Homo sapiens: one gene and its partners. The protein of the gene in region 2 purifies or fractionates together with the protein of the main gene of each other region. This does not show direct contact. Each region holds a gene or a part of one and is shown on either strand. Other genes may lie near its edges.

Evidence for each region.
Region 1: the proteins of SPIN1 (region 2) and SLBP purify together in Homo sapiens (affinity purification with mass spectrometry; one large-scale study listed by BioGRID and IntAct). This does not show direct contact.
Region 3: the proteins of SPIN1 (region 2) and DDX42 purify together in Homo sapiens (affinity purification with mass spectrometry, with the first as the bait; one large-scale study listed by BioGRID). This does not show direct contact.

What each region holds. Positions count from the first base shown.
Region 1 is NC_000004.12:1,705,772-1,709,424, forward strand, and holds part of SLBP (histone RNA hairpin-binding protein), read right to left. Parts: intron 1-3,653. UniProt on the Homo sapiens protein: RNA-binding protein involved in the histone pre-mRNA processing.
Region 2 is NC_000009.12:88,464,929-88,468,581, forward strand, and holds part of SPIN1 (spindlin-1), read left to right. Parts: intron 1-3,443; coding exon 3,444-3,653. UniProt on the Homo sapiens protein: Chromatin reader that specifically recognizes and binds histone H3 both trimethylated at 'Lys-4' and 'Lys-9' (H3K4me3K9me3) and is involved in piRNA-mediated retrotransposon silencing during spermatogenesis.
Region 3 is NC_000017.11:63,780,591-63,784,243, reverse strand, and holds part of DDX42 (ATP-dependent RNA helicase DDX42), read right to left. Parts: intron 1-3,653. UniProt on the Homo sapiens protein: ATP-dependent RNA helicase that binds to partially double-stranded RNAs (dsRNAs) in order to unwind RNA secondary structures. Unwinding is promoted in the presence of single-strand binding proteins.

The DNA of each region.
Region 1 (3,653 bases), on a different chromosome or scaffold from region 2:
TATTTATACATTGTGAGAAGTTGATTTTAATAAAAAGGTTGGAACGTCATCTCCAAAATAAATAAATACCCAAGCATGGTGGGGCGTGCCTGTAGTCCCAGCTACACAGGAGGCCCAGGCAGGAGGATCACTCTAGCCCAGGAGGTCAAGGCTGTGTGAGCCATGATCCTGGCACTGCACTCCAGTCTGGGCAACAGGGCAAGACCATATCTCAAAAAAATATATATGGTGGCAGAGGACAGTGGCTCATACTTGTAATCCCAGCACTTTGGGGACGCCGAGGCGGGTGGATGACCCAAGGTAAGGAGTTTGAGACCAGCCTGGCTAACATGGCGAAACCCCATCTCTAATAAAAATACAAAAATTAGCCAGGTGCAGTGGTGCGCACCAGTAGGCCCCAGCTACTAGGGAGGCTGAGGCAGGAGAACTGCTTGAACCCCAGAGACGGAGGTTGCAGTGAGCCGAAATTGCACCACTGCTCCTCCAGCCTCAGCAAGAGACTCCGTCTCAGAAAATAAATAAAATACAGAATAGCTAGCATATCCATTTACCTTTCGGGCGCATGTAATTAATAATTCAGAATGTTATGTACACTATGATTACAATGTGTATGGAGGAGTATATGTCAGAGTCCTTGCTGTGTCAGGACTCCGTCTACTGGCAAAGTACCCCCTGTGCTTGAGTTAAACCACATCCAGGAGCTCAGTTCCATCTCAAGTTCAAGATAGTCTTCAGTCAATATTGGGAAATTTATGGCCAGGCAGTGGCTCACTCCTGTAATCCTAGCACCTCGGGAGGCTGAGGCTGGCAGACTGCCTGGGCTCAGGAGTTCCAGACCAGCCAGGGCAACATGGTGAAACCCAGCGTCTACCAAAATACAAAAACTTGGCTAGGCGTGGCAGCGCGTGTCTGTAATCCCAGCTACTAGGGAGGCTGAGGCAGGAGAATCCCTTGGACCCAGGAGGTGGAAGTTGCAGTGATCCACCAGGCGGAGTTGCAGTGAGCCGAGATCGTGCACTGCACTCCAGCCTGGGGGAGAGAGACCCCGTCTCAAAAAATAAATGAATAAATAAATAATAGTCCGGGCGTGGTGGCTCACACCTGTAATCCCAGCACTTTGGGAGGCCGAGGTAGGTAGATCACCTGAGGTCAAGAGTTCAAGACCAGGCCGGGCGCAGTGGCTCACGCCTGTAATCCCAGCACTTTGGGAGGCCGAGGCGGGTGGATCATGAGGTCAGGAGATCGAGACCATCCTGGCTAACAAGGTGAAACCCCGTCTCTACTAAAAATACAAAAAATTAGCCGGGCGCGGTGGCGGGCGCCTGTAGTCCCAGCTACTGGGGAGGCTGAGGCAGGAGAATGGCGTGAACCCGGGAAGCGGAGCTTGCAGTGAGCCGAGATTGCGCCACTGCAGTCCGCAGTCCGGCCTGGGCGACAGAGCGAGACTCCGTCTCAAAAAAAAAAAAAAAAAAAAAAAAAAAAAAAAAAAAAAAAAAAAAAAAAAAAAAAAAAAAAAAAAAAAAAAAGAGTTCAAGACCAGCCTGGCTAACATGGTGAAACGCTGTCTCTACTAAAAATACAAAAATCAGCTGGGTGTGGTGGTGGGTGCCTATAATCCCAGCTACTCGGGAGGCTAAGGCAGGAGAATCACTTGAACCTGGGAGGTGGAGGTTGCACTCCAGCCTGGGCAACAGAACGAGATTCCATCTAAAAAAAATAATAATTAAAATTTAAAAAATAATAATCAGGAAATCCAAAAGCTTAAGGCTTCGAGCCCCAAATTCTGGCAGTTCAAATTGATGTATCTTATTTATACATCAGACATAAACTCACATTTTTATTTTTCTACCCCATTTTTCTGTTGATCACTACTGACATTAAAACTAGATACTGGGCCGGGTGCACAGGCTCATGCCTGTGACCCCAGCACTTTAGAAGGCTGAGGCGGGCGGATCACAAGATCGGGAGTTTGAGACCAGCCTGGCCAACATGATGAAACCCTGCCTCTACTAAAAATACAAAAATTAGGATAGGCATAGTGGCTCACACCTGTAATCCCAGCACTTTGGGAGGCTAAAGCAGGCTGATCACTAAGTCAGGAGTTCGAGACTAGCCTGACAAACATGGTGAAATCTAGTCTCTACTAAAAATACAAAAATTAGCCAGGCGTGGTGGTGCGCACCTGTAATCTCAGCTACTCAGGAGGCTGAGGCAGGAGAATTGCTTGAACCCGGGAGGCAGAGGTTGCAGTGAGCTGAGATCGCGCCACTGCACTCCAGCCTGGGCGACAGAGCAAGACTCTATCTCAAAAACGAAAAAAAAAAAAAAAAAATCAGGCGGGCGTGGTGGCGCATGCCTGTAGTCCCAGCTACTTGGAGGCTGAAGCAGGAGAACTGCTTGAACTTGGAAGGCAGAGGTTACAGTGAGGTGAGATCACACCACTGAACTCCAGCCTGGTTGACAGTTATGCCCCGTCACAAAAAAATACACTAGATACTAACTTTAATTACAACAAATAAGCAACCTATTTTAGCTGTAAACCAAATGCTGTGCTTTGAAAATGCAATTGCAGTAACAAATGAATAATCCTCTTATGTAATTATCATTTCTTCCCTTACAGTCACACAACTCAGATAAACTTAAATTGGATTTCTAAAAGTAAATTTCCAGATTCTAAAAATGGTAGAAAGTTATGAAATCAAATTAGGTAATTAACTGAAAATTAAATTGACTCAATAGAGGTTTGTCCAGGATTGGATACAAGCATCCTCACTAGTGTATCAAGAGGTTCAAGTCTGGGTCTGCCAACATAACAAATTCCTGAACTACAAGAATAATTTAAAGCCTGTGTATGTGAATGACCATATACTACATGCCATATTTTGGTATCTTTAAGTCCATTTCTTAGATTAAGTAGGTTATATTCATAATCTACCCTATCTTGGGACAACAAAGCCTAATTTTACACACTAAGCTAACAACCTTCCAAAGAGTACTTCTAGATCTTATCCATCAACGAGCTGGCTCTATTTGTCAGGTGCCTCCAGGCATTATCCACAATGTGCAAATACCAAGTGCAAAGGCCCTAGGACAGAAGCATTCCTATAGTTTGAGGAATGAGGACACCAAAAACTTCCATAACTTCTAAAGCACTGTAAGGATTTAATATTTTTATCTTCAGCTAAATGAGACCACTGGAGAGTTCAGAGCTTGATCTCAATAAGGTTTGTTTACCTTCCCTTCATATCTGGACCTAGGGCCTCTTCTGTACCCACCCGTAGACCCAAGTCTTTTGTCTTTTTTTTTTTTTTGAGACAGTTTCACTCTTATTGCCCAGGCTGGAAGGCAATGGCGTGATCTCGGCTCACCGCAACCTCCACCTCCTGGGTTCAAGGGATTCTCCTGCCTCAACCTCCCGAGTAGCTGGGATTACAGGCATGCGCCACCATGCCCGACTAATTTTGTATTTTTAGTAGAGATGGGGTGTTGGGAAAAAGGCTTATCGAGTGCCTGTATAAGCTGGCCATAAAAATATGGCACAGTAAGTTGTGAAAAGCCACAAGAGGCCTCTGAGGAGGAAAGCCTCCTAATTGCCATCATGTTCCCATGCTCAGAGCGAGACCTGCTCTCTTATCTGTAAACAGTGTTCAAGA
Region 2 (3,653 bases):
CCCTGGCAACCACCATTCTACACTCTGTCTCTATGAATTTGACTATTCTAGATATCTCATAGAAGTGGAATCACACAGTATTTGTTTTGTGAGTAACTTATTTCACTTAGCATAATGTCCTCAAAGTTGGTTCATGTTGTAACGTGTGACAGGATTTCCTTTAAGGCTGAAAAGAACATTCCATTGTATCTATATACCACAGTTTGTTTATCTGTTCACCCATTAATGGACATTTGGATTGCTTCTACCTCTTGGTAGAATGTAAAATTGTACCATGTAAAATTGTGAATAGTGCTCCTGTAAACATGGATATGCAGATATTTCTTTGAGATCCTGCTTTCAGTTGTTTTGGATATAGGCACAGGAGTGGGATTGCTGGATCATATGGTAATTATAATTTTAATTTTAGTATCGTAATTCTAATTTCTTAGGTAGAACTACCATACTGTTTTCCACAGCAGTTGTACCATTTTCCAGTCCTACCTACAGTATACAAGGGTTCCAGTTCTCCATCCCTTAGTCAGCAGTTGCTATTTACTGTTTTTGTCATAGTGGTCATCCTGATGGGTGTGATACGATACCTCATTTTGTTTTGATTTGCATTTCTCTGATGATTAGTGATATTGAGCATCTTTTTATGTGCTTGTTGGCCACTTGTAAATCATCTTTGGGGAAATATCTACTCACATCCTTTGACCATTTTTTAATTAGGTTATTTTGATTTTTGTTGAGTTGTGAGAGTTCTTTATATGTTCTGGAGACATGAGTTTTAATGTAACAGTATGACAGATTTATTAATGGTTTCAGATTCTGCATTGTAACTAACCTTTAAGGAGCTAACTGTTGAATTCTGTGGTTTCATATAAGTATATCTAGAATTATCTGAAAGACGATTAGAATATTCTTTTCAGTATCATATCTTTGAGAGGCTGGATTTTATACCTGAACTGAAAGAGCAGATCATAACAGATTGAGTGCTAAAGCAGATATGAGAATCTACTTGTTCTTTTTAAAACCTAGACATTAGGAGATTTGCAAAAATGTAAAATTAAGCCACTCTTAATGTATTTTGATAGGAAATAGTTATTTTTAATTTAAAATGCATTGATATATAGGTATTTTTAAATAAATGTTTCTAGATTTGTTTTTCATTTTCTGAAGTAGTAAATATTGGTAGGCATTATCTATGTAAACAGATGCTTTTTTAGGTCTGTAGTAATTTCCATTTATGTTTTAATTTTTTTTTTAGAGACAGGATCTCGCTTTGTCACCCAGGCTGGAGTATAGTGGTGTGATCAGGGCTCACTGCTGTCTCAACACGTTGAGCTCAAACAGTCCTCCTGCCTCAGTCTCCTGAGTTGCTGGGACTACAGGCACTCACCACAGTACCCTGCTAATTTTTAACTTTTTGTAGAGATGAGATCTCATTATGTTGCCCAGGCTGGTCTCAAACTCCTGGCCTCAAGCAATCCTCCTGCCTGGGGCTCAAAGTGCTAGGATTATAGATGTGAGTCGCTGTGCCCAGCCAGTAATTTTTAAGAATGCACATGGAGTTCTGAGATCTAAGTCTGAGATCTACTGGCTTTAAGAAACTAGTGGGGTTTTTTTACTGTCATACACGGGGGGAATTCTGTGTAATTTTTTATTATTACTGCGTACTTAAAACCAGCCATACATGTTTAGGGTTTGCTGATAAAATTAAATAGCAATACATGTATCAAGAAAATCTCACTTTTTTGTTTCTTTTGATGTAACAGAAATAGAAGTTTGTTGAATGAGGAAAATAGGAGAGCTAATTGTTTGTTGTTGTTGTTTTTGTTGTTGTTAAGACAGGGCCTCACTCCCGTAGCCCAGGCTGGAGTGCAGTGGCGCCATCTTGTCTCACTGCAGCCTCGACCTCTGGGTTTAGGTGATTCACCACCTGAGCCTTCTCAGTAGCTGGGACTACAGGCCTGCACTGCCACACCTGGCTAATTTTTTGTATTTTTAGTAGAGACGGGGTTTTGTCATGTTGCCCAGGCTGGCCTCAAACTTCTGGGCTCAAGTGATTCGCCCGCCTTGGACTCCCAAAGTGCTAGGATTACAGGCGTGAGCCACCGTGCTTGTCTCTAATTGTTTGTTTGTTTGTTTGTTTGTTTTTTAAAGATAATTGTTTAAATTTGGTATAAAGACAGTTATCTAAAATTGTGGACTGGAGAAGTCTTAAAACCAATGGGATCCTTCATAGTTTTTCCAGTATTAAAAAGATGAAGGTGATAATTTTCACCACTTTTGAAAAATATTAAGGGCTAGGACCGTTAATCTATCATTTCAGAGACCTGAGCTCCCAACCACATGGGGTATCTGATTAAATCATACAAATACTGACCTGCTATGATCTAGGTATAAAACAAGAAAGGGAAGGTCTCTGCTTTCATGGGGATGTACAAGCAACTAACAAGTACACAAATAACATAAAGTGGGATAACTTTAGATCATGGTGAATGTTATTAAGAGGTAAAATTGGGTAATGTGACTGGGATTTGTGGGGCTACCTTGTTGGTCAGGAGAACTCCAAAAGGAACCGGCCTTCTGAAGGTATGGGGAAGAGCTTATCAGGCAGAGGAGAGTGTGTCCTAATGGGAGAGGAAGAAGAGCAGAGTAGAGAACGCATGAACAACAAGGAGGAAGATGGGAAACCTGAGGGCAGAGGCGTGAAGGCTTTTAGGGCTTGGGGGCTATGGTGAGCAGTTTGGTTGTTTTTCAAATTATAAAGGGAAGGCATGGGAACATTTTAGATCACACAATGTGGTATCAGTGACACAACGATTACTTTGGTTGCAGTGAAGAATAAGATTGTAGGAGCAAGAGAGTAAAAACCTATGCCTTAATAAAAAAATGGAAATAAGACTGAAGGAAAACAAACACCAATTTCTTTAAAAAAAAAAAACAAAAAAAAAACCCTCTGTGCCTTGAATAGCTTTTCTAAGTTTTAAATAAACGTTCTGTGGTTATGTAAGATGCTAATACAGGAGAAGCAAAGTGAACCGTATACAGGAACTCTACTATTTTTCCAGTTCTTCTGTAAGTCTGAAATTATCTCAAAATTTAACTGTTAAGTAAACAATAACAAACAGTATTTTATACCTTGAATGAACAATTAAAACTTTTGATTTGGGTACAGAACCAAGAGCAGATGAGTCCAGAAAAATAAAAAATCATATTTTTTTCAATTAACTGACTTGGGACAAAATACTTCTATTCTGTTGAATCCATCTCTGAGCTGGGGCCCAGTAGTTTGTCTTTGGTTTTTGTACTTTTTAAAGCTTTCCCAGATTCTGATGCTTGCTAATACGTTGCATGGACAAAATTTCAGGTGTAGCCTTCTTTAGTAAATTCAGTCTTCATAGTCGGTAATCAGCGAAACACTTTGTCAACTTTTTTTTTTTTTTTTTAATCCCCAGCGACATCTCGAATCAGCGATGCACACTTGGCAGACACAATGATTGGCAAAGCAGTGGAACATATGTTTGAGACAGAGGATGGTTCTAAAGATGAGTGGAGGGGAATGGTCTTAGCACGTGCACCTGTCATGAACACATGGTTTTACATTACCTATGAGAAAGACCCTGTCTTGTACATGTACCAACTCTTAGATGATTACAAAGAAGGCG
Region 3 (3,653 bases), on a different chromosome or scaffold from region 2:
GGTGGAAAAAAATTCCAAAAACTGTTTATTATAGTAACATTGTCGAAGAGATCAGAAACATGCACTGTTCTATACCCCTTGTCTATATATACTTCATAGGTTTTGTTCAACTGCTATTATACACAGCACTTAGTTGTTTGCTTAGTTTTAAGGTTTTTGTTTGTCTGTTTGTTTTTTTGGGAGACAGAGTTTCACTCTGCCTCCCAGGCTGGAGTGCAGTGGTACAATCTTAGCTCACTGCAACCTCTGCCTCCATGGTTCAAGTGATTATCCTGTCTCAGCCTCCCGAGTAGCTGGGATTACAGGCGTGTGCCACCAGGCTCAGCTAATTTTTTGTATTTTTAGTAGAGATGGGGTTTCGTTATGTTAGGCAGGCTGGTCTTGTACTCCCGACCTCAATCAATCCAACCACCTTGGCCTCCCGAAGTGCTGGGATTACAGGTGTGAGCCACGGCACCCAGGCTGCTTAGTATTAAACTTGAATTACACTACATCAATCTCTACTTAGACCCTTAACTCCAGATAGAAACTGTCTTTACTCATTTTGGACTTCCTTCTCTAACAGTGAGAATGACTAAGGTATGTATTTAGTAAGTACTAATTTACCTGAACTTCATCTCCTGCTGTCTTTCGGAATCCCATAAGGGGATTCCTTCAATCAAGGAATCAACGTAATTCCAGTGTGATGAAATTTAGTAAGAATCTTTACAAGCAAGAAAATTTCAGCATCTGACGTTTTTAAACTAATCTATAAGCTATCTTTACAAGAGGTGTTCCCAAGCAACAAAAAGGATGGGCTCAATTTTAATCTCATTTTTCCTAGTGTATACAATGTATAACAAGGAGCTAATAAGCCATAAGGATGAGAAGGCAAAGAAAGGATAGTGGAAAGACATTTACGTTCAGGTGGATTTTAAGAATCACACAATCTCCTAGCAGGAAAACTTTCAATGGTTTACTGAAAGCTTGCTGAGAAGGTCAGGTGGTATATGATGTGCTAGGCATTCATACATGAAAGATACAGTCCCTGTTCTCAAGGAGTAGACAGTGCAGTCTGAGGCAGCTGAAAACAACATGATGCGTTCTAACAGACGTACTATACAGAGTGCATTCACTGGTGGTCCATGAGTGGGAGCAAAGGCATAGAAGTGTTCTGAGAGATGACATGTTAAATTTTGAAACCTCAAGAGGCATTAGATCAAAGAGGCATTAAAGAAGGGCATTTCAGATGGAAGGATCTGTTAAGTGTTACCACAGAGAACAAGAAATAGTTCAGTGCAGCTAGAGTTCAGTAGCACATTTGGGAAATTTGCAGGACACATGTTCAGAAAGACAGGTAGGGCCAAGATGAACAGCTTAGAAGGCTATGCTAACGACGTACCATACAAAACTGTATTCTGCCAGCTACAAAGAATCGTTAATTTTACACAGAAGGGAAATTTTCAGATCAGTGTTTTTGAAAGACAGAATGAGAGATACTCATGGTAGAGGCAAGGAAAGTAGAAGGCTGTTGCAGCAACGCAGGTATAAAGCGACAAAATTCTGAACTAAGAAAGCACCTGTGGGAAAGGAGAAACGGGGGATGGATCTGAGTTATTTATTTAGATATCTGAGGAAAGATCAATTAGGATTGTGTGACCAGTAATTGGTGTGGAAGCTAAGGAAGAAGAGTCTAGAATAACTTCAGAAGTTTCTGGCTTTAAAGACTGGGTGAACTGTGGAGCCACTAATGGAGATGGAAACCTAAAAGAGCCAGGTTTGCAAAATTAGGCAAAAGGTGAGTTCAGTATCTATGAGAGAGCTGAGTAGAGATGCCAAGCAGGGGCAGTAACTGCAGAGAGGGGTCCGGAGTGAGCTATAGATTTGATGTAAGCCATTTGCATTTGAGGTTACTGATGTAAATAAGCTAGCAGAGAGACCATGCAGAGTGAGAAAAGAAGTAAGACAATTCTTTCTTTTCTCCCCAAGACGGAGTCTTGCTCTGTCGCCCAGAGCTGGAGGGCAATGGCATGATCTTGGCTCACTGCAACCTCCGCCTCCTGAGTTCAAGCAATTCTCCTGCCTCAGCCTCCCGAGTAGCTGGGATTACAAGCACGCACCACCGTGCCCAGCTAATTTTTGTATTTTTAGTAGAGACAGGTTTCACCATGTTGGCCAGGCTGGTCTCAAACTCCTGACCTCGTGATCCACTGCGCCCAGCTGGTAAGACAATTCTTTTTTTATTTTTATTTTTTGAGACGGAGTCTCACTCTGTCGCCCAGGCTGGAGTGCAGTGGCACAATCTCGGCTCACTGCAAGCTCTGCCTCCCGGGTTCACACCATTCTCCTGCCTCAGCCTCCCCAGTAGCTGGGACTACAGGCACCTGCCACCAGGCCCGGCTAATTTTTTGTATTTTTAGTAGAGACGGGGTTTCACCATGTTAGCCAGGATGGTCTCGATCTCCTGGCCTCGTGATCCACCTGCCTCGGCCTCCCAAAGTGCTAGGATTACAGGCGTGAGCCACCACATCCGGCCCAGTAAGACAATTCTTAACATATATCACTATTTAGGAATGGGCAGAAAAAGAGAAGCTTACATGGAAACTTCAGATGGAACAGGGATTGGGGAAGGGAAAGAAAGAAGAGGGGGAAAGAAGGAAGGGGAGACAAGGAGGAACACGGGTGAGGAGAAAGAAGCTCTATAGGCAGAAAACTAAAGAGAAGTTAGGTAAGTTAAGAACTAAAATGTGCCAGGCACGGTGGCTCACGCCTGTAATCCCAGCACTTTGGGAGGCCAAGGCAGGCGGATCACAAGGTCAGGAGATCAAGACCATCCTGGCTAACACGGTGAAACCCCATCTCTACTAAAAATACAAAAAATTAGCCGGACGTGGTGGCGGGCACCTGTAGTTCCGGCTACTCAGGAGGCTGAGGCAGGAGAAAGGCATGAACCTGGGAGGTAGAGCTTGCGGTGAGCCAAGATCCGGCTACTACACTCCAGCCTGGGCGAGAGTGCGAGACTCTGTCTCAAAAAAACAAAACAAAAAGAACTAAAATTCTTCTGTTGTATAGGCAACCAGGAGTCATCAGTGAAAGCAGTTTCAATGGAGCAGTAGGGACAGGGTTGAGGAGTACCTGGCAAGTAAGTAGTAGAAGATGAAGACTAGGTCAAGAGGAGTCAAGAGTACTTTGTAGGCTGTTTATCAATGATAGGAAGGAGAAAGTGAAGCATTACCTACAGAAATTTTATTTTTTAAAGAAACATAGGCATGTTTATATGCTAAAGGGGAAAAACCAGTAAAGTCTGAAAAACTGAAGATGCAAAATGACAGAAAAAAGTCATAGGATTTCCAGAGAAGACCAGACACAATCAAAACTTTTAACAACAGGAGTAACTCACTCTTCCCCCAAAGCTAGAGGGAAGGAGTGAAAAGAACAAACATGACTATGAATCAGCCCTATTAAATAATCAAAAGGTTCATATTACAAAAGCAGCAAATCAACTCCTGCCACAAACAGGCAGGCAGTGAGACCTTGGGCAGGTGAGGGTTGCTTACTGGCTCTCAAGACTTAGCAAGTTGGAAAAGCGATCCTTTCCCTAGCTCATCTAGAACACACAGCTCATTGTCCCTCAATTACTGACTCTAGGAAGGCCAAGGAACTGTGCTTTCTAT